Homo sapiens: one gene and its partners. The protein of the gene in region 1 interacts with the protein of each later gene in a pairwise test. Each region holds a gene or a part of one and is shown in the gene's direction. Other genes may lie near its edges.

Region 1 (7,027 bases):
GGAGTGCTGTAGGAATCTAGGTGTGTCACGGATAGGTAGGAAACTAGATCCTACTGTGGATCCACTCCCTTCTTGAAATGCTTTGCTTTCTTGGTTTTCCAGGTATTAAATCTCTATTCTTCATCCTCTCCTTGACTGACAGTATCCTTACTCACACTTCAGCTGCCTCATCTTAGCAGTAATTAATAATCACTCATGGATCCATGAACTAAGGAGCTGGAGATAGCCTCAGAACAGCTCATTCAGAGGTGTATTTCCAGTAAAATTGACCTTTTAGCCCTGATAATCATATACCAAAACCTGCAATCATGTTGTTTTGGTCCATTGTAGACTCTTAACTCATTCCAGAGGAAAGTTTATAATACTTAGAGCCTTATAGTCATAAAAATCAACATAGATATACCTATTTCTTTTTCAGAAATGTATGACATGGAGATCAATAAGAGGTTTTCAATCATAAAGATACTATACCTTGTATTACAATAAAATTCTGTGAGGAAGTAGAATAGAAATGAGTTTCAAAAATAAAAGATAAATAATATAAATTTTTTAATCTAAGAGCTTGTTCTTGTATTTTTTTCAAATGGATAATGTAGACACTCAAATTCCATTGATATATTTAAGAGTGATTTGACTTATATTAAGAGTTGTATTATAAAATATTAATATTTATAATTTAAAAGAAATTACATTCTTTGCAGCTATTTAGGATAAAAAGTTTAAATATCAAATAAATGTATGCCAGGGGTCATTTGCTTTTAAGATTCTTCCAGCAAATTATTAAGCAAAAAGAGCATGCCTTGCTTTTTCATGGTAAAGAGAAGAAGGGAGCGGGGAGAGGGGAAACTTTACTTCATACCATTTGATCCTCATATTTTTTTGCATCTTAAGAAGAGAACAAATGATCCTACCAATATTGAACTATTTTTCTCTCTTTGATTAGATATGGTCCGGCTTGCTTTCACAGATGTTTCGATAAAAAATTTTGAAGAGTTTTTTAACCTCCACAGAACCGCCAAGGTAAAACCAACCATGTGTTGTTTAAAAAAAAAAAAGAAAAGAAATTAAGCTTGACACTAGAAAATAGATTTCTTGGATGAGGATTATTTCAACTTTATTGTATACTTTTAGAACAGCAAATAACATCACTCACTAGTGCTTCTTCTGATGTTACCGGTGATGTCTGGTTAAAAGCAATAAAGGAGGGAGTGCTTAAACGCACAGAACAAGAGATCCACAGTTAGCGGAGAAGATTATCACATCTAAGGGCAATGGCTCCAAATCCAGAAACTCACTGAGGAAACTACATATAAAAATAGAATATTTCTGGCCCGAGTGGGCATGATGAGCCTGTAATCCCAGCACTTTGGGAGGCTGAGGCCGGTAGATGACTTAAAGCCAGGAGTTTGAGACCAGCCTGGCCCACATGGCAAAACCCCATCTCTACTAAAAATACAAAAAAGTAGCTGGACGTGGTGGTGCATGCCTGTAATCCCAGCTACTTGGGAGGCTGACACTTTAGAATTGATTGAGCCCAGGAGGTGGAAGTTGCAGTGAGCCAACATTGCATCACTGCACTCTAGCCTAGGCGATGGAGCGAGACCCCGTCTCAAAAAAAAAAAAAAAAACAAACAAAAAAACTTTCCATCCAGAGTGAGGAAAGAGCCTACAGGAAATGAGCCTGGGGGACAGACTGGGCCAAGAGACCAGACTTAGCCACTCTTAGAAATAGGTGTCCCCGGCACAGATGAGGAGCCTGGCCCCATGATTCACCAGCTGGAGGCCTTGGGATGTGCCACTTCCAGCCTGTGCCCCTGACTCCTCATTCATAAAAGAAGACTGATAAGGCCTTCCTCAGAAGGTTGAGATGGACGTGGAGTAAGATGTTTAGGATGCACCTGCCACTGTGCACTGTGCCTCTCCTCAAGGCCTGGAGGGTCCAGGGGTGAAGTTTCTCCTCCTCAGGTTTTGGCAACCAGTTTCTCTAAACCCCGGGAACATAAAACATAATTTTCTGACTTAAACATGGCTTTCCTGCTCATCCCTGTGGATTATCTGATGGATATGACAATCCTCGCCATCAGATATAGAAGCCCCTAAAAGAGAAAGGAAAGAAGCTGAGTTACGGGGCCTGAAAGCAAGCCTGTGCAGGTCCCCAGGCCCCGGGATGGGGGTCCGGCCCATCTGTGGCTCAAGCCTCCTGGGAAGCTCTGACCCTCAGCCAGGGCTAGAAACCTGCCTTAGATACACCAGGGCGCGGCCCAGAGGGCTGTTCCAGGAAACGTGCTGTTTCACTCACGTTGGGTAACCTGGTATTTACGGACTTCTTACCTACTTTCCTGTGACTCAGGAATTTGTGTCTTGAGGGAAACTGTATTTATTTATTTTTTACTGTAGTCCAAAATTGAAGACATTAGAGCAGAACAAGAGAGAGAAGGTGAGAAGCTGATCCGCCTCCACTTCCAGATGGAACAGATTGTCTACTGCCAGGACCAGGTATACAGGGGTGCATTGCAGAAGGTCAGAGAGAAGGAGCTGGAAGAAGAAAAGAAGAAGAAATCCTGGGATTTTGGGGCTTTCCAGTCCAGCTCGGCAACAGACTCTTCCATGGAGGAGATCTTTCAGCACCTGATGGCCTATCACCAGGTACGTCTTCGCGTGGTTCAGGATGCCAGCTTCCATTCTTTCCTTTTCTTCTGAACGCCTCTCTCTTTAGTCTTGCTCTCTCTGTAGGTGACGTTGGTCAGCTCTGTCGTTTACCTCCTTGTTAGCCTCCTGTATTAGTCCATTTTCATGCTGCTGATAAAGACATACCTGAGACTGGGCAATTTACAAAAGAAAGAGGTTTAACGGACTTACAGTTCCACATGGCTGGGGAGGCCTTCTACCATCACGGCAGAAGGCAATGGGCACTTCTTACCTGGCGGCGGTGGCAAGAGAGAGAATGAGAGCCAAGTGAAAGGGGTTTCCCCTTATCAAACCATCAGATCTCATGAGAGTTACTCACTACCATGAGAACAGTATTGGAGAAACTGCCCCCATGATTCAGTTATCTCCCCCTGAGTCCCTCCCACAACAGGTGGGAATTATGGGAGTACAATTCAAGATGAGATTTGGGTGGGGACACAGAGCCAAACCATATCGCCTTCGTAGAAGCAGCTCAACCTCAGACAGAGAGATGGTGGCTTAGAGCCAGTGACATCTGGTTTTGATGGCTGTCTAGCTCTGGCCAAGTTACTTAACCTCTCTGAGCCTCAGCTTTCTTTGTAAAATGGTGTCTCCTCATAGATTCTAGTGCATATTCCAGGAGACGAGTGTGGATGATGATAATGGATTGCTAATGGAAAAACCAAACTCTGTTAAAATATTTGAAAGAGGTTTATTCTGAGCCAAATATGAGGGACCATGGCTCTGGGAACAGTCTCAGGAGGTCCTGAGGAAGTGTGCCTGAGGCTGTCAGGATGCAGTTTGATTTTATACATTTCAGAGAGGCAGGAATTGTAGGTAAAATCATAAATCAATACATGGGAGGTGTACTTGCCCTCCCTAAAGAGGCAGGACACCTTGAAGGAGGGGGAGCTTACCGGTCATAGGTGGGTTCAGAGATTTTCTGGTTGACGATTGCTTGAAAGAGTTAAACTTTGTCTACAAACTTGACATCAATAGAAAGAAATGCCTGAGTTAAGGCAGTGTTAGAGGCCAAAGGTATGTAGATGAAGACTCTGGGTAGCAGCCTTCAGAGAGAATAAATGGTAAATGTTTCTTTTCAGGCCTTAGAGGCAGCAGGCTCTCAGTTAATCTCTCCTAGATTCAGGGAAGGCCTAGAAGGGGAGAGGTCTGACTGCATTAATGGAGATTCTCTACAGGTGCAAATTCCCCCCCCACAAAACATGGCAGGGCCATTTCAATCTGTTGGTCCTGTTACAGCCGTTTCAAAATATGTCCACAAAATATATTTTTAGGTAAAATATTTGTATTTCCTTTAGGGTCTGCAATCTGTCTTGTGATGCTATACCAGAGTCGGGTTGGAAAGTAAGCCATTTTATACTGAGTTCATGGAAACTCATCCAAGGAGATTTCATGGTTTGTGGGGTGTGTGTGACTTAACCCCTGCCTCACATGACTTTATAATATGGTATCTTACTACTCCAGAGTCTTTTTGGCCAACCTTATGATCTCAATTTCAACCTAAACTCCAAAAGGGCCTGGCTTCTCTTCCTGTTACGGCCAGGAATTCAGATTTTCAGGTTTCTCTGGGGTCCACTTGGCCAAGAGGGGGTCTGTTGAGTTGGCTGGAAGGCATAGGATTTTATTTCTGGTTTACAACAATTTCCTTAGTGCAGCATTGGAATGCAATGGTAGCAGACTAAATGGAAGCTATCGCGTAGACACATGCTTTGGTTGATACTGCACGATTCAGTTAACCTGAAGTACAATCTAATTCATCCTAGGGAAGGAGGCAGTGAACACAGACACAACTCAGGTAGAGCCCTTGGGATGTGTAAACACCTGAGGAGGTAAAGCAAATTGTAATCTCTCGGTTTATCAGATGTCCCCATTGCCTTACTATTTGGATGCTTTAAAGCAGGGCCTCTCAAACTCCACCCAGCACAGAGGCCTCCTGGGATCTTGTGGAAATGCAGATGCTGATTGCAGGTCAGGATGAAGCTGAGATTCTGCCTTTCTTTTTTTTTTTTTTTTGAAACCGAGTCTCACTCCATTACCCAGGCTGGAGTGCAGTGGCACAATCTCAGCTCACTGCAACCTCTACATCCTGGGTTCAAGCAATTCACCTGCCTCAGCCTCCCAAGTAGCTGGGATTACAGGCTTACCTTGCCACCATGCCTAGCTATTTTTTCTATTTTTAGTAGAGATGGACTTTTACCATGTTGGCCAGGCTGGTCTTGAACTCCTGACCTCAAGTGATCTGCCTGCCTCGGCCTCCCAAAGTGCTGGGATTACAGGCGTGAGCCACCATGCCTGGCCTCTGCATTTCTAACGGGCTCTCAGGGGTCACCATACTACTGGATAGAGGCCACACTTGGAGGAGCAAGGCTCTAAACCGAGGGTCAACATCCATTCCTCCAGACACTGGGAGCTGCATGCACGTGAGTGAAGCCAGTTAAGGGGAAGACAGGCATGCACATCAGCTTCTCCTGCAGCCAAGCTCACACCTGTCCGCTGCTTCCACTGCCTCCTAGAATGAACAGTTACCTTGAGAGTAGGTGAGGCATATACATGCACAGAATCCAAACAATAGGATGAGTGACAATGGCAGAGGAGTCTCCGAGCCAAGCAGCTCCCTGGACAGAAGCAGCCCTTCTCCGGGTTCATTTCTGTCCTCCGAGGCTGACTCATGCACTCAAAAGCTCCCATGCATATACATTTTATAATGGTTTTTACACAAAGGTTAGCAGAGGAGTGGACGTGCTGCTCTGTACCCTGCCTCTTTTGCTGTACCTGGGAGATTGTTCTGCCTCAGTTCTGATGGGGCTGCCTTGTTCTTTTCAATGGCTGCTGAGTATCCCATTTTATGGATGTGGTATATTGAGCCAGCTCCCTTTAAGCGAACAGTTTGTTTGCAGTCTTTTGCTAATGCAGGTGTGTTGCTGTGAATAGGTTTGTTTGTATATCATGTATCTGGAAGCATCAATTCCTAGAAATGAGATTCCTGGTATATTAGGATTGTGCAGGGAAACAGAACCACAGATATATGTATGTAAAGAAGTATATTTCAGCCAGGCATGGTGGCTCATGCCTGTAATCCCGGCACTCTGGAAGGCTGAGGTGGGTGGATCTCTTGAGGCCAGGAGTTTGAGACCAGCCTGGCCAACATGGCGAAACCCGGTCTCTACTAAAAATACAAAAAAATTAGCTGTGCATGGTGGCCCATGCCTATAGTCCCAGCTACTTGGGAAGCTGAGATATGAGAATTGCTCGAACCTGGGAGGCAGAGGTTGCAGTGAGCCAAGATCACACCACTGCACTCCAGCCTGGGTGACAGAGCGAGACTCCATCTCAAAACAAACAAACAAACAAAAAACAAAACAAAACAAAAAACAGAAGGAAAGAAAGAAATATATGTATATTTCAAGGAATTGGCTTCTGCCATTTTGGGAGCTGGCAAGTCCAAAATCCCAGGGCAGGCCAGCAGGAAGAGCAGGCCAGAAATTGCAGCAGGAGCTAAGGCTGAGTCCACAGGCGGAATTTCTTCTTTTTAGGGAAACCTCATTTTTCTTCTTAAGACCCTCAACTGATTGGATGAGGCCCATCCACATCATTGAGAATGGTCTCCTTCACTTAAAGTCAGTGGGTTACACATGTTACCCACATCTACAGAATACCTCCGCAGCAATACCTAGATTCGTGTTTGATGGAATCACTGGGGACTCGAGCCTAGCCAAGCTAACACATGAAACACACCATCACAGCTGGGGAAAGGATGGCTTATTTTAGACTGATAAAGATGACCCAGAGAAGGCCTGCTCCATCCACACTGGCCGCTTTAGTCTGCACTAAAGTTGTTGGTTTTTTTTGTTTGTTTGGTTTTTTTTTGGTGACAGAGTCTCACTCTGTCGCCCAGGCTGGAGTGCAGTGGCGCAGTCTCAGCTCACTGCAACCTCTGCATCCTGAGATCAAGCGATTCTCCTGCCTCAGCCTCCTGAGTAGCTGGGACTACAGGCACGTGCCACCACACTCGGCTAATTTTTGTTTTTTCAGTAGAGACGGGGTTTCACCATATTGGCCAGGCTGGTCTTGAACGCCTGACCATGTGATCCATCCGCCTCAGTCTACCAAAGTGCTGGGTTTACAGGCGTGAGCCACCACGCCCGGCCTTGTTGGGGTTTTTTGACAGCCTAATAGGTGAAAATGACATCTCATTACAATCTTAATTGGCATTCTCTTATGACAACAAGCTGGTACATCTTTTTGTGTGTTGAGGGTTATTTCTATTTCTTGCTCAGCAAACAGTTCATCCAGGAAGAGCTTCTTGGTGAGATAGTAGACCTCTGCGATTTCTGTTGCA
Region 2 (7,027 bases), on another chromosome or scaffold:
GACAGCTTGTGTTGTTTGTGATATTGTATGCAGACTCAGGGATTTGCTGGAAAGAATTTAAGTGGTGGCATTATTTTTTCAAAGAGTGTTTCTGAGTTACGTTGACCATCTTTCAAGGACATTTTTCACAAGCTCCAAATTAAGTAGTGTTGTAGTGGCTGTTGCAATTTACAATGGAGAAAAAGGATAATTTGCAGCATATAGTTAACAAGTTATTCTTAAATCCAAATTACCAAATGTCCATGCCTCATTTGAAAATAAGGCATAACTCAACATTAATAATGAATCTTTGCGTGTGCTATCTTATTTATATAAAAACAGTGCATGTCCCTGCAGTGCTTGTTTGCTCTACCAAAAGAAAGGTTTTTCACTGCGCCCAGAAGGTCAACAAACTTGGGCCCAGTTGGTGCCTAGTGGGGAGGGACTTTGTTGACACATCAGGGCACAGAGGTGGCAGAGCATTTTCTCTCTTGGTGACACCGGTGGTGTGAGGGATCCGCCCGCTCTTCTCCCCTTCCTGCATGTCAGGCTGCGGCCATGGCAGACCACTCACTCCTTGAGGCTTACTTGAGGACCACTCACTCCTGAGCCATCTGGTTTGAAATTCCCTTTCCTCTGAGTGTACATCAGTGAGATGAATCAGAATAATTTATACATGTTGAAGGATATTTTTAAAAGATTATTATTGGAGTTAGGGATTTAGGATAACTGGGAAAATTAACATTTTGACCTAAGCTGGTGTTCTTTTCTTACATGGTATTTTCACACGGGTCTTCTGAGAAAGCAGCATTTTCTAAGTTTCTTGTTAAGTCCTGATTTTTCTGTTGTTGTTGTTGACACAAGATCTCACTCTGTCACCCAGGCTGGAGTGCAATGGTGCGATCTCAGCTCACTGCAACCCCTGCCTCTCAGACTCAAGCAATTCTCCTGTCTCAGCCTCCCGAGTGGCTGGGACCACAGGTACACGCCACTGCGCCCAGCTTAATTTTTGTATTTTTAGTATAGACGGGGTTTCATCGTGTTGCCCAGGCTGGTCTCAAACTCCTGAGCTCAGGTGATCTGCCTTCCTTGGCCTCCCAAAGTGCTGGAATTACAGGCATGAGCCACCAGGCCCGGCCAAGTCCTAACTTTTGGAAAACGCTTATTTCGAGTGATATTTTCCTGGCATGGGGCGTTTTTACAATCACAGCTAATGTTTATTGAGTTCTTACTTGGGTTGTCTCCCTTATTCCCCATGACAACCCATGAGGTCAGTAGTGTCATTATTTCCATTCTGAAGTCAGGAGAGGTTAAGGAACCTGCTCAAGATCCCACAGTGAGTAAGTGGCAGAGCTGAGACTTTAAACTCAGGTCATCCAATTTTCTTAACCACCATTCTGTTTTTATGTCTCAAAGTTAGCATTGCGTGTTGCAGAAACTGAGCTCTTTGGCTCTAATATTTAGATTATTCGAGTCTTGGAATCTGAATATTGGATGACTAATTCATCACCGACCATTATACATTTGTTGGCTTAATAGTGGGACCAGATTTGTTGTTTGGCTCAAGAGATAGAAATGGTGTAATTAAACAACAACAACAAAACCCCTGGGGTGTCTAAAAGGATCTCTGTAGGACCACATGTAAGGAGTTCCACGTAGTTATGTGTCATTAATTGGAATTCACAATAAAGCAGATTAACAAATTAAAATGGAATGTATTTTAATTTCTTTTTAATTTCTAATTTAATTTCTAATTGCATCACCTCAGAGAAGTGATCTAGATGCTTCAACCACAGAGGGTGTTGACACAGTGAAGGCTGCTTTTCCTTGTTATTTCTTCCCATGAGCTGGGGCTTAGAGATTGTTAAGAAAAGGAGCTTGAAACAATGAGGAGGAGGATGGGGAATGAGCCGAGGGCATTCATAAGACCAGGCGGCAGCTGCTCCCTGTTTCCCTGGCCTTCTGTTCTCAGACCTTTGCTAAGAAAAAGTGAATTATAGAAATCGAGCAGCTTGGTTTTCTTATGCCTGTTTGGTCTGTGGACAAGAGAAGTAGAAAATTTTAATAGAAGCAGCTGTAGCTTCTTTTGTTTGGCCTCTAGGAGATTACTGGTTAAGGGCCAGTGGAACTGCTTTTCTCTGTATATGGAAACTTACATGCTTTTTTGAATGTAGATTTTCAAAAACTTGTACTTTCAAGAAGTTATTTGATAGGCACAGTTTTGATTGAGTCATAGGACACTAGGAGAGTGGAAATTTAGGTATAAGAGTGATGGCACAGACGATGCCATTAGATGGCTGCTGTCTTCGTGACTGTGTTATTTTCTGGCGAAGTTATATTGGAAAAATGCTTGGAAATTGACAGCAGGCTTTGTGATCTTCCAGAGTGTCTCCTCTGACTCTGCCTTCATGTCCCTACAAGGTGCAAGTAGTGAGTGTTTGAAGAGGCAAGATATTTCTTGCATCTGAAACTTTGTTTGAATAGCAAAGTTACTTTTGGGCAGATTTTTATGTTTCGCCGATTCATTTCTAGTGGCTACAAAAGGTCTGTCAGCCACCTTCCCCACCCGCTGATGCTTATATCTCCCTATAAAAATCTCCCTTGGCCGGGCGCCATGGCTCACGCCTGTAATCCCAGCACTTTGGGAGCCCGAGGCGGGTGGATCGCCTGAGGTCAGCGGAGTTGAGACCAGCCTGGCTGTCATGGTGAAGCCTTGTTTTTACTAAAAATACAAAAATTAGCTGGGCATGGTGGCAGGTGCCTGTAATCCCAGCTACTTGGGAAGCTGAGGCAGGAGAATCACTTGAACCCAGGAGGCGGAGGTTGCAGTGAGCAGAGATTGTGCCATTGCACTCCAGCCAGGCAACAGAGCGAGACTCCCTCTCAAAAATAAAAATAAAAATAAAAATAAAAAATCTCCCTTGAAGAAAAATTAACCATTGCTTTCCATGAGCTAATATCTGAAAGTATCAAGGCAGAGTCTGAAGTACAGATATTATTATGCTGTTGATTTAAGCATTCAGCAAATATTAAGTGCTTACCTCGTGCTGAGCTCAGTGTACACTCCAAAAAACCTTGTCCACTGACCTAGGCAAACCTCACTTGGATCGTACTAGTGCGAGTCAAACTTCACAATCAGCAAATACTGAAACTACAGTACCTAAGAACTCAGAACTTGTGAACTTTATAGAATCGATGCAGTTACTGCCTGAATCAGCATTGTTCAATAGAGCTTTTACTATGATGGAAATGTCCCATATTTGCCCTGTCCAATAAGATAGTCAGTAGCTACATGTGGCTGCTAAGCATGTGAAATGTGGCTAGTGAGATTTAAGAACTGAATTTTAAATTTTATTTAATTTCGATAATTTAAATAGCTTCAGGCCGCTAGTAACTACTATATTAGGGCAACTTTACAGCAAAAGTGCTTTTTTAATAGATGGCATTATCTGTCCTGGGCTGTCATTTCTCACTCTCTCTCTATTTATTTTTTTTGAGACAGGGTCTCACTCTGTCGCCAAGGCTGGAGTGCAGTGGCAAGATCTCGGCTCACTGCAACCTCTGCCTCGGGCTCAAGCGATTCTCCTGCCTCAGCCTCCAGAGGAGCTGGGACTGCAGGTGTGCACCAATCATGCCTGGCTGTTTCGTATTTTTAGTAGATACGGGGTTTCGCCATGTTAGCCAGGCTGGTCTCAAACTCCTGACCTCAGGTGATCTGTCCCCCTCAGCCTCCCAAATTGCTGGGATTACAGGTGTGAGCCACTGGGCCCAGCTGGCTGCAGTTGACTTTTTGTTGCAAGCTGTAGGTGGTTCCCTAATTTCTAGCCCTCTTTGAATCTGCCTAGTATCACAGTGAATAATCAGGTGGGCAGTGCTATATATCAAAGCTAAGGTGTTTTGGGGACACCTGCAGAGCTGTCTTGGAGGCCCAGTTGATTTTCATTGTAGATGAAATTGACAGGAAAAATGTCTGAATAGCATCTGTATTGGCAAGGATTGTGCTGAGTTTTAAAGATAGGTAAGTGAAGGTGCCCGTGTCCAGTGGTTAGAAATAAGGAACATTCTAATAAGGCAGTGGAACAGAGGAAAAAGGTCTTACTCTTTATCCCCAAATACTCTGTAGTGACAAGTCTGGAAGGTAGACAGTCACATTCGCAGGCTCCAGGATTTCTTCAGAGTTAGCCATGTAGGAGTAGTCTTGAGGATAGCAGTGTGAAATTCTCATGGTTAGACCTCTGTTGAAATACATTTTAATTTTGAGTTTTGTAATTTGTGGTGGAACCACAGTATCAAGGCATAACAATACAAAAGCGTGGGGATAGGAAGAGGAGAAAGAATGACATCTATTTAGTATTTATTATGGGCTAGGTACTATGTGAAACATAGTATGTGTGAGTGTGTACATGCATGCATCTGTATGTATTTATATATTCTTTTTTTTTTTTTTTTTTTGAGATGGAGTTTCGCTCTTGTCACCCAGGCCGGGGGTGCAATGGCGTGATCTCGGCTCACTGCAACCCCCGCCTCCCGGGTTCAAGTGATTCTCCTCCCTCCACCTCCCGAGTAGCTGAGATTACAGGCACGTGCCACCACACCCAGCTAATTTTTGTATTTTTAATAGAGACGGGTTTCACCATTTTGGCCCAGGATGATCTGAATCTCTTGACGTCATGATTCGCCTGCCTCGGCCTCCCAGAGTGCTGGGAGCCACCGCACCTGGCCTATATATCCTTTATAGTATTGAAAGGTAGGTGGTGTCTCCATTTTCAGAGGGTGAAATTGAGGCTCATGGAGATTAAATGGGATCCTTTTTTTAAACAACTTTATTGAGATATTCACATACTATACGATTCACCCATTTAAAGTGTACACTCATTGATTTTTAGTATGTTCATGGAGTTGTGCACCCATCACCATAGTCAATTTTAGAGCATATTCATCACTTCAAAAACAGCCCAGGCCAGGCACAGTGGCTCACACCTGTAATCTCAGCACTTTGGGAAGCCAAGGTAGGAGGATCTCTTGAGCTCAGGAGTTTGAGACCAGTCTGGGCAACATAGAGTGAGACCCCTTTAATAGCAAAAAAATTTAAAAATTAGCTGAGCATGGTGATGTGTGCCTGTAATCGCAGCCACTCAGGAGGCTGAGGCAGGAGGATTGCTTGAGCCCAGGAGGTTGAGGCTGCATGCAGTGTGTCGTGATTGCATCGCTGTGCTCTAGTCTGAGTGACAGAATGAGACCCTGTCTCAAAAGAAAACAAAAAAACCCCAAAAATTCCAGACCCATGAGTTGCCACCTCTCCCCATTGCTCCTATCCCTCATCACAGGCAACCACTAATCTATTTTCTGAGTCTGGATTTTGCTGTTCTGCACATATCATGTAAATGAAACAATACAAAATGTGGCCTTTTGTAGCTGGCTTTTTCCTCATGTTTTCAGTGCTCATCCATGAAGTAGCATGTGTTAGTACTTCATTCCTTGTTATTGCTGAATAGTATGCCATTGACTAGATGGGTCACATTTTATTTATCCGTTCATCAGTTGATGGGTTGTTTCCACTTTTGACAGTTAGGAATAATGCCATTCTGAACACAAGCATACAAGTTTTGTAGCCATTCTAGTGGGTGTGAGGTGGTATCTCATTGTGGTTTTGCTTTTCGTTTCTCTAATGACTAATGATGATGAATATATTTTCACGTGCTTATTGGCTCGTATTCGTCCATTTTCACACTGCTGATAAAGACGTTCCTGAGACTGGGCAATTTGCAAAAGAAAGAGGTTTAATGGAATTACAGTTCCACATGGCTGGGGAGGCCTCACAATCATGGTGGAAGGCAAGAAGGATCAAGTCATGTCTTACATGTATGGCAGCAGGCAAAGAGACAGCTTGTGTGGGCAAACTCCCATTTTTAAAGCCATCAGATCTCTTGAGACTTATTACAATCAAGAGAACAGCATTGGAAAGACTCACCCCGGTAATTCAATTACCTTCCACCGGCTTCCTCACACGACACATGGGAATTGTGGGAGTTCCGATTCAAGATGAGTTTTGGGTGGGGACAAAGCCAAACCATATCATTGGCCATCTGTATATTTTCTTTGGAGAAGTGTCTATTCAGATCCTTTGACCGTTTTTAAATTATATTATTTGTCTATTTACTCTTACATTTTAAGCATTGTTTTTATATTCTGGGTTGAAGTCTCCTATCAGATATATGCTTTGCAAATAGCTTCTCTCATTCTGTGGGTTGTCTTTTCTGTTTCTTCTTCCTGACCTTTGAAATAAGTGAAGTTCTTTATCTTAAACAGAGCACCAGAGGGCTTAGCACAGTTCTAGGCCCTCACGTATTTTCCAAAGTGAGTTAACAAAACTTTCAGTATGATGACTTGTGTAACAAATATTGTTTTTTAAATATCTGGTTGGAAGAAGGATGGAGATTTAACCTTTGCCTGAGCTATTTGAGAGGGACCACAAAGCTCTGCAGACTTGAGACTCTTATGTATACTGAAAGGAAATTTTGGAAGCCAGTTCTCTGGAGACTTTTATGTATAGAAAATAGTCTTCTCCTCCTGGATTAGACAGAGAATTGCTTGAAAGGAGGACACCCTACCTAGAAGACCCTTCTTGATCTTTTTAGATACTGTAATGTCATGATCTAAATAGTGTTTCCCAAACTTGTCTGTCAAGAATTACCTGGTTTCAGATTTCTAGGGCTGCCTGAAGATTCTGGTACAGTGGTTCTGAAGGAGCAGTCTTCCTAATCACCCCATGCAAGTCTTAAGATCGGAATGTTTGGGAAACTGATCTCACCTGGTAATAATGATGACCTTAGTGGTTGCCCCTAGAACCTAATTAGTTCTCTTTAGTGGGTGTGGTCTCCAGTTGACAAACATCCCTCGCCAGGGAGATTACAAGGAGCTGATCAAGCCAGTCTGGCTACATTGCTTACCTCAGCACTGGGTCTTGATCCAAGACAACCCAAGTCCCCAACCCCCCACCCCCTGCCAGTGTGGTAGAGATGTGTCATAAAAATTTAAGCCAGGCTCA
Region 3 (7,027 bases), on another chromosome or scaffold:
TGAAAAAATGACCTCTTAATGGCTGGGCATGGTGGGTCACACCTCTAATCCCAGCACTCTGGGAAGCTGAGGCAGGAGGATTTCTTGAGCCCAGGAGTTTGAGACCAGCCTTGGCATCTTGTCGAAAACCCATCTCTACAAAAAATAAAAAAATTAGCTGAGCATGGCGGTGTGGGCCTGTGGTCCCAGCTACTAAGGAGACTGAGGTGGGAAGATCACGTATCAGTGAGCTGTGATTGTGCCTCTGCACTCCAACCTAGGTGACAGGAGCGAGAGACCCTGTCTCAAAAAAAAAAAAAAAAAAAAAAAGATCTTGGCCGGGTGCAGCGGCCCACGCCTATAATCGCAGCACTTTGGGAGGCTGAGGCAGGCGGATCATGAGGTCAGGAGTTTGAGACCAGCCTGACCAACGTGGTGAAACCCCATCTCTACTAAAAATATAAAAATTAGCTGGGCATGGCTGGGCGCGGTGGCTCACACCTGTAATCCCAGCACTTTGGGAGGCCGAGGCTGGCAGATCACAAGGTCAGGAGATGGAGACCATCCTGGCTAGCATAGTGAAACCCTGTCTCTACTAAAAATACAAAAAAAATTAGCTGGGCGTGGTGGTGAGCGCCTGTAGTCCCAGCTACTCCGGAGGCTGAGGCAGGAGAATGGCGTGAACTCGGGAGGTGGAGCTTGCAGTTAGCCGAGATCGCGCCACTGCATTCCAGCCTGGGCGACAGAGCAAGACTCCATCTCAAAAAAAAAAAAAAAAAAAAAATTAGCTGTGCATGGTGGTGCATGCCTGTAATCCCAGCTACTCAGAAGGATGAGGCAGGAGAATTGCTTGAACCTGGGACGCGGAGACTGCCGTGAGCCGAGATCATGCCACTGTACTTCAGCCTGGGCAACAAAGTGAGACTCTGTCTCAAAAAAAAAAAAAAAAGATCTTTTGGTCAGTTCTAATATTCTGTGTGTATCCAGTGGGTGAATAGAGGCCAGAATCCTTGAAACCTAAATCCCTTTCAGGAAAGTATAAAATATCTGGCGGTTTGAATATTTGGACACTTGACTCTTTCACTTGAAAAGTGAAAAATACTGTGAAATGCTATTTACAGTTGGCCCTTGAACAATATGGGTTTGATTGGTGGGGGTCCACTTTTATGCAGCTTTTTTTTTCCCAACCAAACATGGATGGAAAATATGGTATTTGCAGGATGCAAAACCCGGGTCTATGAAGTGTTGAGTTTTACTTTTTGTATATATGGGTTCCACGGGGCTGACTTTAGGACTTGAGCATGTACAGATTTGGTTATATATGCAGGTGGTCCAGGAATCAATCCCTCATGTATACTGAGGGACAACTGTACTTCCTTTTTATTTGGCTAAAAGTCTTTTACTTGATTATCTTTTGCCCGATGATTGATATCCTCCAGTGTGTAGAGTCCGTACTTTCCTATATTGCTGTTTGGATCAGTTTGGTTTTTCTTGATTCTCTTTGTTTAAAAGCTGTCTTTTTTTTTTTTTTTTTGAGATGATTTCGCTCTGTCTCCCAGGCTGGATGGAGTCCAGTGGCGCGATCTCGGCTCACTGCAAGCTCCGCCTCCCGGGTTCACGCCACTCTCCTGCCTCAGCCTCCTGAGTAGCTGGGACTACAGGCACCCGCCAGCACACCCGGCTAATTTTTTGTATTTTTATAGAGACGGGGTTTCACCGTGTTAACCAGGATGGTCTCGATCTCCTGATCTCGTGATCCGCCCACCTCGGCCTCCCAAAGTGCTGGGATTACAGGCGTGAGCCACTGCGCCTGGCCAAAAGCTTTCTTGTTTTTTGAGACAGGGTCTTAGTCTGTCACCCAGGCTGGAGTACAGTGGCACAACCATGGTTTACTGCAGTCTTAAGCCCCTGGGCTCAGGTGATTCTCCCACCTCAGCCTCCTGAGTAGCTGTAACTACAGATGTGCACCACCACACCCAGCTAGTTTTTATAGAAACTGGGTTTTGCTATGTTGCCCAGGCTGGCCTCAGACTCCTGGACTCAAGCAATCTGCCCACCTTAGCCTCCCAAAGTGCTAGGATTACAGGCATGAGCTACCACGCCCAGTCAAAATCTTACTATACAAGTAATAGCAAAGGGTATTTTTCCCCTCTGTGAATCTGCTATACATGAATCTCTTATCTGATTTTTATGGTCTCCATTTCTTTTACTTTCTCTTTATAGGCTAATAAATAAGTTAGATGCTTAGCATCAGACTTGCTTGTAGTAGAGCTCTTGGGAAAGCACTATACCTTTCTCTTAAATTATTTCAAGCTTTCTTCACCCTCAGTAAGTCTGGGGCTGGCAGGCTAGTAGGGGCTGGCAGGCTAGTAGTAATGTCTATCTTCAATCTCTTTCAAAAACATACCTACCTAGGAAACACATTGCTCTTTTGTGATTTTGTAAGTTATCTTTCACTTTCTATTCAAAGTAAGAAAGCATTTTCCTTTGCAAGGCAGGTTTTCTTTAGAAAATCCAATATTCATCCTAGCTTACCTAAGAGTCTAGTTTTTAAAATAGGGACCTGCAGCCAAGAGGCTAGAATGTTAAAATAACAAGGTCTTTGTAGCTATTGAGTATGAGATATAGGATAGCTATAACTTTTTCGTTAAATTCACTGTTCTCACCTCTACTGGACTGTTTTTAGGTAGCATCACGCAGATTGCCATCTCAGAAGAGAGCATGGAAGAGGCAGGGCTGGAATGGAACTCAGCTCTCACCGCTGCTGTCACCATGGCCACGGAGGAGGGTGTAAAGAAAGACTCAGAGGAAATTTCAGGTATTCTTCTATAGGGCTCAGATGTCTTGCAGGGTCTTGTGAGCCTTATCACCATTATCATTATGGACACGGAAGACCTCTTAATTACTTTCGCTGGATTTTCTCATGCACGTAAATACTAACTATAGCTACAAACATCCTACTTTAATCCATGCAATAGCCCTGCATAGTCACATTTTACATACAAAGAAATCAGAATTGGCCGGGCGCAGTGGCTGACGTCTGTAATTCCAGCACTTTGGGAGGCCAAGGCAGGTGGATCACAAGGTCAGGAGATCGAGACCATCCTGGCTAACACAGTGAAACCCCGTCTCTACTAAAAATACAAAAAAAAAATTAGCCGGGCGTGGTAGCAGGCGCCTGTAGTCCCAGCTACTCGGGAGCTTGCAGTGAGCCGAGATCGCGCCACTGCACTCCAGCCTGGGCGACTAAGCAAGACTCCATCTCAAAAAACAAAAAACAAAAAACAAGAAATCAGAATTTAGAAAGGTTCAGCAACTTGCCTAAGACCAGTCACAAACAAGTGTCAGAGCTGAATTTAGCTGTTTGACTATGTAGTCTATGCTTTTCTTCTGATCAGACTGCCTCCAACTTTGGCACATTTCTTAGATAGACTAAGTTTTGAGATATTAGAAGGAAAAAATAGGTGGCAAGTGTTGTAGAGCATGGTGATTAATGATGATTCACTTAGAGGGGACCAGGAGAGGCTTCACATCACCCTCCAATTATTTATTCATTTAATAGGTATTTATTATTGCCTATTTTTAGTTGGCACTGTTGTTAGATGCTGGGTGCGTAGATGAAAAGACAGACCAGGTGCGGTGGCTCATGCCTGTAATCCTAGCACTTTGGGAGGCCAAGGTGGATGGATCACCTGAGGTCGGGAGTTCGAGGCCAGCCTGACCAACATGGAGAAACCCCGTCTCTACTAAAAATACAAAATTAGCCTGGTGTGCTAGTGCATGCCTGTAATCCCAGCTACTCGGAGGCTGAGACAGGAGAAGCACTTGAACCTGGGAGGTGGAGGTTGCAGTGAGCTGATATCACGCCATTGCACTCCAGCCTGGGCAACAAGAACGAAACTCTGTTCTCAGAAAAAAAATAAAAATAAAAAAATAAAAAAAGAAAAGACATAGCCACCACCCTCAGAGAGCTTATAGCCCCATCTATCCAACTGTTTTGTTTTGTTTTCTTAAGTATAGGACTAGAGAGAGTATATCTTAATTAATATTTCATTTCTTTACTATTTAACTTTTATGATATTAAATATCTCGTTTTTAAATTAAATTAAAATTAAATAATATGTAATGTTAAATATGTTTAATGTTTAATATTTTTATTGGAGGAAAATGACTATTCTTTGTAGTGAGAACTATGACAAATTGAGAGAATGACAAATTGAGGCAATCATCCCAAGCACCTATGCTGCTGAAGGGGCGACATAATTGGGTGCCCACTCAGGGAAGCATCTAGTATTCCAAAGCTTATTCCCTTTTTTCAGGAATGGCCCAATAAGAAATCATTTTGAGTTAAAATAATTTTGAATTTAACGTTGTAGAGATTTGCCTAAGTATCTAGGTAGTGTCTCTTTTTTACCCTCTGTCTTATCCTTCTTGTGCCAGAGGACACTTTGATGTTCTGGAAAGGAATAGCTGATGTAGGGCTGATGGAAGAGGTTGTCTGCAATATACAGAAGGAAATAGAGGAGCTACTCAGGGGAGTTCAGCAGCGGCTCATCCAGGCTCCCTTCCAAGTCACAGGTAAGTGCACTAATCCTAACAGTAGCAGTGATTTATTGAATACTCACCTCCGTAGGCAGGTCCTGTAAGCCTTGCAAAAACCCTGATGTATAGGTATTATTATCTTAATTTTACAGATAAGGAAACTAAGGCTCATATAAGTTAAGTCACTTGTCTAAGGTTCATAACTAGGTTTTGAACTCAGATCTGGCCATGCTTTTCCACAGGTAATTTTTGTCTTTATAAATGGTGCCAGTAGTCTGGGCAACATAGTGAGATGCTTTGTCTCCACAAAAAAAATTTTTTTTTTTTTTTGAGACGGAGTCTCGCTCTATCGCCTAGACTGGAGTGTAGTAGCGCAATCTCAGCTCACTGCAACCTCCGCCTCCTGGGTTTTAAGCAATTCTCTCTGCCTCAGCCTCCTGAGTAGCTGGGATTACAGGCGCCCACCACCACATCCGGCTAATTTTTGTATTTTTAGTAGAGACAGGGTTTTGCCATGTTGGCCAGGCTGGTCATGAACTCCTGACCTCAGGTGATCCCCCCGCCTCGGCCTCCCAAAGTGCTGGGATTACAGGCATGAGCCACCGCTCCCAGCCTACAAAAAACTTTCTAAACATTAGTCAGGTATGGTTGGTAGTGGGTGCCTGTAGTCCCAGCTACTTGGGAAGCTGAGGCATAGGAGAATCACTTGAGCCCAGCAGTTTGATGCTGCAGTGAGCTATGATCATAGGACTCTACTCCAGCCTGGGTGACAGAGCAAGACCTTGTCTCAAAAAAAAAAAAAAAAAAAACACAGGCCAGGTGCGGTAGCTCACGCCTGTAATCCCAGTACATTAGGAGGCCGAGACCGGCGGATTACTTGAGGTCAGGAGTTCGAGACCAGCCTGGCCAACATGGTGAAAACCTGTCTCCACTAAAAATATGAAAAAAAAAAAATTAGCTGGGTATGGTGCACATCTGTAATCCCAGCTACTTGAGAGGTTGTGGCACGAGAATTGCTGAACCCAAGAGGTGGAGGTTTGCAGTGAGCCAAGGTTATGCCACTGCCCACCAGTCTGGGTGATAGAGAACAAGACTCCATCTAAAAAAAAAACTGACAGAAAGCATCCTCTCTCGCGCGATATATGTATTTTCTTTTTTTTTTTTTTTTTTTCCTGAGACGGAGTTTCACTCAGTCACCCAGGCTGGAGTGCAGTGGCGTGATCTCAGCTAACTGCAACCTCCACCTCCTGAGTTCAAGCGATTCTCCTGCCTTAGACTCCTGAGTAGCTGGGATTACAGGCGCATGCCACCACACCCAGCTAATTTTTTGTATTTTTAGTAGAGATGAGGTTTCACCATGTTGGCCAGGCTGGTCTCAAACTCCTGACCTTGGGTGATCCGCCCGCCTCGGCCTCCCAAAGTGCTGGGATTATAGGCATGAGCCACCGCGCCCAGCCGATACATCTATTTTCAGACTCTCTGTATACATTCATTATGTGGTATGTCCACTATGTGTATGTATAGAGAAAGAGTCTGAAAATTGGAGAAATCCACTTGTTTTTAGATTATTCTCATATTCGGCCGGGCGCGGTGGCTCACGCCTGTAATCCCAGCACTTTGGGAGGCCAAGGCAGGCGGATCACGAGGTCAGGAGATCGAGACCATCCTGGTTAACACGGTGAAACCCCGTCTCTACTAAAAATACAGAAAATTAGCCGGGCGCGGTGGCGGACGCCTGTAGTCTCAGCTACTTGAGAGGCTGAGGCAGGAGAATGGCATGAACCCGGGAGGCAGAACATGCAGTGAGCCGAGATAGCGCCACTGCAGTCTGGCCCAAGCGGAAGAGCGAGAGACTCCATCTCAAAAATAAATAAATAAATAAATAAATAAATAAAGATTATTCTCATATCCTATTAATTTAAGGCTTTCTGAACTTGTTGTGTTCACTTATAGCTGTTTCTGAATACTTTCAGGGTGCTGCTGTGCAGAATGTAAAATGACGTTCTAATCTAATAGAAATGGGGTTATGGGCCAGGCGTTGTGGCTCACGCCTGTAATCCCAGCACTTTGGGAGGCTAAGGCAGGTGGATCACCTGAGATCAGGAAGTCAAGACCAGCCTGGCCAGCATGGTGAAACCCTGTCTCTACAAAAATACAAAAATCCGCGAGGCATGATGGCGGGTGCCTGTAATCCCAGCTACTCAGGAGGCTGAGGTGGGAGAATCGCTTGAACCCGGCAGGTGGAGGTGGCAGTGAGTGGAGATCACACCATTGCGCTCCAGCCTGGGTGACAGAGCGAGAGTCCGTCTCAAAAAAAAAAAAAATGGGATTATGATGAGATGAGACCTTGTGTATTCAGTGAATTCTTATTTATTTATTTATTTATTTAGAGACGGAGTCTCACTCTGTTGCCCAGGCTGGAGTGCAGTGGCGTGATCTTGGCTCACTGCAACCTCCACCTCCCAAGTTCAAGTGATTCTCCTGTCTCAGCCTCCTGACTAGCTGG
Region 4 (7,027 bases), on another chromosome or scaffold:
GTGTCATCCTTAAATGCTGGAACATGGAAAACTGGCTACATTATGTATCTTGCCTCCTCACATTTTTATCTGAGGCCTGACCTTATGTCCCCTTCGTTTCCTATGAAAAGGCCCTTCGAACAGGCAGTTCTCCAATTGAACTTTAAAACAATCCAGTTAATATAGTTTCATTACTCTAGCTTCTCTTACTTTGACCAAATCCATTCTTTATTTCACTTCTCAGAGAAGTGAAGAAATGCTTTTTTATGTTTCTTTTCTTAATCTAATAAATCATTCTTGGTAATGCTTCATTTTCCCATTTAGGCCTACCTGTATGTACATTGTATTTTATCTGATTGTGCAAATAAGTCTTTTTAATGTAACTCTTATGAAAGTCTCCCTTGTTAATCAAATTCATCTTTTCTTTCACAAAAGTTCCATGCTTCAGTATTGTCCACAGCTACCTGAAGGAATTAGTAATGTGTCATTTAAGTGTCCTTCAGTATTTCTAAATACCCTTATAATAATGAAGGTAAAATTAAATTTAAATAAATGATCAATTAGATTAACTTTGTAAGCATCTGACTTAATTGGATGAGAACATTTCCAAAATATTTAATATGTAATTTTAAAATTCCTGAAGGACTTATGAAATTGCTTGTTCTTAAAACATTTAAAGAACTTTACCTTGGCTGGGCGCGGTGGCTCACGCCTGTAATCCCAGCACTTTGGGAGGCCGAGGTGGGTGGATCACGAGGTCAAGAGTTCAAGACCAGCCTGGCCAAGATAGTGAAAACCCATCTCTACTAAAAATACAAAAATTAGCCAGGCTCGGTGGCAGGCGCCTGTAATCTCAGCTACTCGGGAGGCTGAGGCAGGAGAATCGCTTGAACCCGGGAGGCGGAGGTTGCAGTGAACCAATATCGTGCCACTGCACTCCAGCCTGGGCAACAGAGCAAGACTCTATCTCAAAAAAAAAAAAAAAAATCCTTTTACCTTACAGTGCATTTTATAGCATTGTCATCTTCAAAGTCAAAATGGACATATAAACTCAAATGCCAAAAAAGGTTGTAAAAATTCAATAAAAAATACAATATCTAGAACATTTAAATTATAGCAATTCTTATTAGTGAAGGTCTTAATAATCATAAAAGTTTTATGACCAGTGGACAAATGATAAATGTCTCCCTATTTTCACCTAGCCTTTAAGAAAGCCTTGGTGGTGGTGACAGCTGTCATATGGTCAACTGATGTAAGGAGTGTACCTGCTTTTACAGTTACATAAATTTGAACAAATTCATGTCGCCCCCCCCAAAAAATGCAAAAGACATTGTGCTCTAAAGATATTTAACATCCCTATACAGTTAATCATTTCTGTTTAAATTACAATGCAATAGATTTTACCGCTTCACCAATCCAGTTGGTAGGATTTTGTGGTCTTCAAATGTTTGATGTGATCTGTCTTCTCTGCATCTTGCTTTACTTGTGTATGTTGTAACCATGATTGAACCTATCCCTCTAACTTAATGTTGGTTTCTACCCTGTCTCAGTGTTGTCAGTCCTGTTGGCATTTTAGAAATTCTCATTAATTTTGAAAATATTTTTTGTATTGGAGGTATTTTATATACTTCCCCAAATGACAACTTTAATTCATGACTGAAATCTAATTAAGCCTAGTATACTTCCTGCAGTATCAACCCCACTGTATTTACAAAGAGAATGAGGAGGTGACAAGACACTTTTTATTTCTTGCTGCCCTTCCAGTCAGCCCTTGGATCACTGCGCATTTCCATCTGGAAGGTTGCTTCTCCTCAGTGATTTCGCATTACAGGAGGGTTTTCCTTCTTTGTTTCTCAGACCTGGTCCTGTAGACGGGAAGGAGCCTGGACACAGTGACACATTCTCAAAGGCCCTGCAGGACCACCATGGCTTATGATGACTCCGTGAAGAAAGAAGGTATGACCCCATAATCTGAGAAGCATTCCAAAGGGGGTATCCTCTTCAATCCTTGCAGCCCATGGATATAGAGACCAGGACTGGGCACCACAGCCTGGACTCCCAAGTGATGGTCCAGAGCACTGTTATGACACTCAGCCTCCACGCCATCCCCAGACTGGGCCCATGGAAACGAAAACCAGGACAGGGGTTCCAACACGAGAGTCTGAAATATGAGTCTCTTAGTTTATTGGGGTGATCCCCTGCAGCACTCTTGGTCCTTGCCAGCTCCAGTGTGCAGGAGTCTGGGGATAGGAATCACATCCTGGACTCCCACAGAGAGCAGCACAGCACATGAATCCTTATTCTTTTCAGCCTTTCGTCTGCAAGTCTGTGTCCTCCTACCAAATCACAACTCAGAAACCATATCTGAGGTTGCACATGGGGCCTTTGCATAGCATGGAAACATTGTTTCTTCAGGTTTGATTCTTGTATTTGCAGCTAGGTCATCAAGAAATATTCTGTTCCCCTGGGTCTAGCCCTGTATTTCAGTGGACTTGATTGAAACATTGTTTTAATTTGGAAATAGAGGAACTGTTGCATTACCTGCATGACGATTTGGTCATTACTTACTTGACTTTCTCATTTCCTTTCCCAAATAAACCTGTGCTTCTCAGATTGTTTTGATGGTGATCATACCTTTGAGGACATAGGACTTGCAGCTGGCCGAAGCCAACGAGAGAAAAAACGTTCTTACAAAGATTTTTTAAGGGAAGAGGAAGAAATTGCTGCTCAGGTCAGGAATTCTTCCAAGAAGAAGTTGAAGGTAAGTCCTGAAAATTTAAATTAGGAAAGTCTTAAACTACTCATTTTTTTTTGGTGATGCAGAGTTTTTTTTTGTTTTTTTTTTTTTTCTCTCATGGCCCAGGCTTGAATGCAATGGCACAATCTCTGCTCACTGCAACCTTCGACTCCCAGGTTCAAGCGTTTCTCTTGCCTCAGCCTCCCGAGTAGCTGGAATTACAGGCGCGGGCCACCACGCCTGGCCAATTTTTGTATTTTATCAGAGACAGGGTTTCACCATGTTGGCCAGGCAGGTCTCAAACTCCTGACCTCAAATGATTCACCTGCCTCCGCCTCCCAAAGTGCTGGGATTACAGGCCTGGGCCACTGCGCCAGGAAAGTCTTAAACTACTTCTTACCATATTTCCTAATATTTGAAGAAGGAAGTATTTTTTAATAACTTGAGAAAAGAAAAATAAAACGTTATGCACATCTATTTTTATTATTTCTTGTGCTTTGTTTCCCAAAATCAAAAATCATCAAAGACAAGAGTGGTTACAAACTGCATTTGCCTCATCATCTTATTATTGGTCAATTCTTCTTTAATTATAGGATAGTGAACTTTACTTCTTGGGGACGGACACACACAAGAAGAAGAGGAAGCACTCCTCTGATGATTACTACTATGGAGGTGAGGATGGGAATGGGCAACAGGTGGGATAAACACATCGCTGGTTCTTGGAGTCGGGGTAGGGGAAAGGGATCCAGATGTTGCTGACTCAGTGGCCTATTTAACAGGACAGTGGTTCTTGTTCTGAGTGCCGATAAACCAGTGTGAAGGAGGAGAGAGGTGGAGGGCTGGTATTTTGGAGGATTCAGCATAGAAGAACAGTCTGCATTTGTGATACACCAGGTACCAGGTTCCTTCTCCCCCCAATCATCCACTTATCTTGTGCCCATTGTTATCTAGCATCCCTTTTGCCATACGTAGTCCTCTGGCCTGCACCTGTGGGTCACTTCTCAACCAGTATATATCCACTCACAGAACCAGTTTTCTTAGCTATGTTATGCACATAGCTGATGAGACTCAACTTTCACCAGAATGGGTTTGTCCTGAACACAGAAACAAATGATACTCTGTCTGCAATCTGAATTGTTAACTTCCCATAATCCCACAGCTATAGTCAGTTCTTCTGGGTATGTGCTCTTTGGTTGCTTCTGAAGACTCAATGAAGAGAAACAACTTTAGTGGCAAGAACTGTGTCCAGGGTCAGAGGCAGACTCTACCAAGCCAAGAAGCACAAGGGCATCATTTCTCAATGTTAGGAATCAGTTAAAGGGTCTCCCTTCAAATCATTCCTGTTAGCCTCTTTCTCATGTTAGCTAGGTGCTTTTGATGAGAGAGGAAACTTGTTAGAAGTTGCTTCCCATCATATTGACAGTACTTCTCTTGATTATTTCTAGATATTTCGTCTTTGGAATCGTCACAGAAGAAAAAGAAAAAGTCCAGCCCACAGTCTACTGATACAGCTATGGACCTGTTGAAAGCTATCACTTCCCCACTGGCAGCAGGCTCCAAGCCCTCCAAAAAGACTGGGGAGAAATCCTCTGGCTCTTCAAGCCATTCGGAGAGTAAAAAGGAGCACCACAGGAAGAAAGTCAGTGGAAGCAGTGGGGAACTACCCCTAGAGGATGGTGGCTCCCACAAATCGAAAAAAATGAAACCTCTCTATGTGAACACAGAGACACTGACCCTTCGGGAGCCTGATGGTTTAAAAATGAAACTTATTCTGTCACCAAAGGAGAAGGGAAGCAGCTCTGTTGATGAGGAGTCTTTTCAATATCCCTCCCAACAAGCGACTGTGAAAAAATCCTCAAAGAAATCAGCTCGGGATGAGCAGGGTGCTTTACTCCTAGGACATGAGTTACAGAGCTTTCTGAAAACAGCCCGGAAAAAGCACAAGTCATCCTCAGACGCACATTCATCTCCTGGCCCTGAAGGCTGTGGGTCTGACGCCTCCCAGTTCGCAGAGTCCCACAGTGCTAACCTTGATCTTTCAGGGCTTGAACCTATTCTGGTAGAATCAGACTCATCCTCTGGTGGGGAACTAGAGGCTGGGGAGTTAGTGATAGATGATTCTTACCGAGAAATCAAGAAGAAAAAGAAGTCAAAGAAGAGCAAAAAGAAGAAAGACAAGGAGAAGCATAAAGAGAAGCGACACTCCAAGTCCAAGAGAAGTTTAGGACTTTCTGCCGTGCCAGTGGGAGAGGTCACAGTGACATCTGGCCCTCCTCCCAGCATCCCATACGCTGGAGCAGCAGCACCTCCCCTGCCACTTCCTGGCCTCCACACAGATGGGCATAGTGAAAAAAAAAAGAAAAAAGAAGAGAAGGACAAAGAGAGAGAGAGAGGAGAAAAGGTAAAGCATCTTTTAAGTGTGGTGGGGGTAAGAGATTAAGCAGGTTCTTCCTGGGTAGTCAGTGGACTTTTAAGTTAAGCAGTTGAGGTAAACCACTGGGAATTAAGCATGTTTGGGGGATATGTTGGAATGATATAAAGTATAAAATATTACCAGTAGCCCAGTCTGTCTGATATAGAAGCAATCTTTTTTTTTTTTTTTGAGATGGAGTCTCGCTCTGTCGCCCAGGCTGGAGTGCAGTGGTGCAGTCTGGGCTCACTGCAACCTCCTCCTCCCAGGTTCAAGCCTCACCCTCCCAAGTAGCTGAAATTACAGGCACCCGCCACCACACCCGACTAATTTTTTTTTTTTTTTTTTGTATTTTTAATAGAGACGAGGTTTCACCATGTTGGCCAGGCTGGTCTCAAACTCCTGACCTCAAGTGATCCACCCACCTCAGCCTCCCAAAGTGCTAGGATTACAGGCATGAGCCACCATGCCCGGCCTAGGGTTTCTTAATAGAGTTATTCTCCCATTGTGCCAGGAATAGGTTTAGTTACACTGTGGCTTTTTCCAGCTAGTTCTTAGAATTCACAGAAGGAGCTAAACCCAATTTCTTTCACTTAGCATCACTGTCTGCTTAGGGCAGTTGGGAGATGTCAAAAGGTGTTCTTTGAGTTCATTTTTAAAAACAGACTATCAAAATTGGTAGAACAATGAGCAGTCAAGTTAACAGAATAGCTAATGACTTTCCACCAGCTGGTGTTGGCTACTTTCTGGTATTCTTTTTAGTGTCGAATATATGTTCTTTTACTGTCTGAGTGCTTGCTGTATGCCAAGCTCAATGCTGTAGATAGTACCAGGAAGTAAAAACACAAGCAGGACATAGTTGTTGACTTTAGGGAGCTCACTGTTGATTAGGGAGATAGGAATGATAAATCAGTCACCTTGGTTTGATTTCTTTCCTCATAACAGTTTCTGGCAGTGAACTTTAGGGTCTCATAACTATGTCATTAAAAGTTTCTTTTTTTATTTATAGTTCTGCAAAATGCAATGTCAGATAAAATCTGGAAGAAAAGCGACTAAGAACGAGAAAATCAAATGTATTAAGAATCTGGGGCTGGGTGTGGTGGCTCATGCCTGTAATCCCAGCACTTTGGGAGGCTGAGGCAGGTGGATCCCTTGAGCCCAAGAGTTCGGGACCGGCCTGGGCAACATAGCGAAACCCAGTCTCTACAAAAAAATACAAAAATTTGCCTGGTGTGGGGGTGCACATCTATAGTCCCAGCTACTCAGGAGATTGAGGTGAGAGGATTGCTTAAGCCCAAGAGGTGGAGGCTACAGTGAGCTATAATCTTGCCACTGCAACTTCAGCCTGGACAGCAGAGTGAGGCTCCCTGTCTCAAAAGAAAAAAGAAAAGAATCTAGGAATGGGAATTTAGTTTGATCTCTGAGGTGGAAGTTATTTCTCCACTATAAAGGGTGCCTTTTAAGAAAGTCTGCTTATATCTATCTGTTTATATCTATCTGTAGATCTATATCTGTTTATCAGTATGTGTGTGTGTATATATAATATATATAAAATAATATATTATATATATATACACACACACATCTGTTTATCTCAAAAAAACCACAAAGCTGTACCTCTGAGCCAGGAATCAGTGTGAACATAAAGACCTGGATATTCCAATACTAAGTCAGGTTTTATTCAGTTGTTTATTTGGAAAATTGCTTTATGAAATAAACACTATGTGTTCTTTATAAGATTCTGTTTATCCTAAGAATTTCCAGTCTAGTGACGTGATAATGCCATGGACTAATCATCCAGTGCTGAATGTCGGAGCACAGGGTCAGGGAAAGCTTGAAGAAGGAGAAGGTTTCAGTGGAAGTGGACGCATGGAGGCAGAGAGATGTTCAGGAAGCAGCAG

The links.
Region 2: the proteins of MX1 (region 1) and PSD3 interact in a two-hybrid assay, tested with the Homo sapiens proteins (one study listed by BioGRID).
Region 3: the proteins of MX1 (region 1) and GMEB1 interact in a two-hybrid assay, tested with the Homo sapiens proteins (one study listed by BioGRID).
Region 4: the proteins of MX1 (region 1) and HMGXB4 interact in a two-hybrid assay, tested with the Homo sapiens proteins (one study listed by BioGRID).

Annotation. Positions count from the first base shown.
Region 1 is NC_000021.9:41,450,224-41,457,250, forward strand, and holds part of MX1 (interferon-induced GTP-binding protein Mx1), read left to right. Parts: intron 1-943; coding exon 944-1,020; intron 1,021-2,397; coding exon 2,398-2,646; intron 2,647-7,027.
Region 2 is NC_000008.11:19,003,699-19,010,725, reverse strand, and holds part of PSD3 (PH and SEC7 domain-containing protein 3), read left to right. Parts: intron 1-3,852; exon of another isoform or gene 3,853-7,027. UniProt on the Homo sapiens protein: Guanine nucleotide exchange factor for ARF6.
Region 3 is NC_000001.11:28,699,773-28,706,799, forward strand, and holds part of GMEB1 (glucocorticoid modulatory element-binding protein 1), read left to right. Parts: intron 1-2,665; coding exon 2,666-2,797; intron 2,798-4,419; coding exon 4,420-4,557; intron 4,558-7,027. UniProt on the Homo sapiens protein: Trans-acting factor that binds to glucocorticoid modulatory elements (GME) present in the TAT (tyrosine aminotransferase) promoter and increases sensitivity to low concentrations of glucocorticoids. Also binds to the transferrin receptor promoter.
Region 4 is NC_000022.11:35,260,487-35,267,513, forward strand, and holds part of HMGXB4 (HMG domain-containing protein 4), read left to right. Parts: exon of another isoform or gene 1-1,039; intron 1,040-1,836; 5' UTR 1,837-1,904; coding exon 1,905-1,935; intron 1,936-2,591; coding exon 2,592-2,740; intron 2,741-3,309; coding exon 3,310-3,388; intron 3,389-3,495; exon of another isoform or gene 3,496-3,610; intron 3,611-4,161; coding exon 4,162-5,117; intron 5,118-7,027. UniProt on the Homo sapiens protein: Negatively regulates Wnt/beta-catenin signaling during development.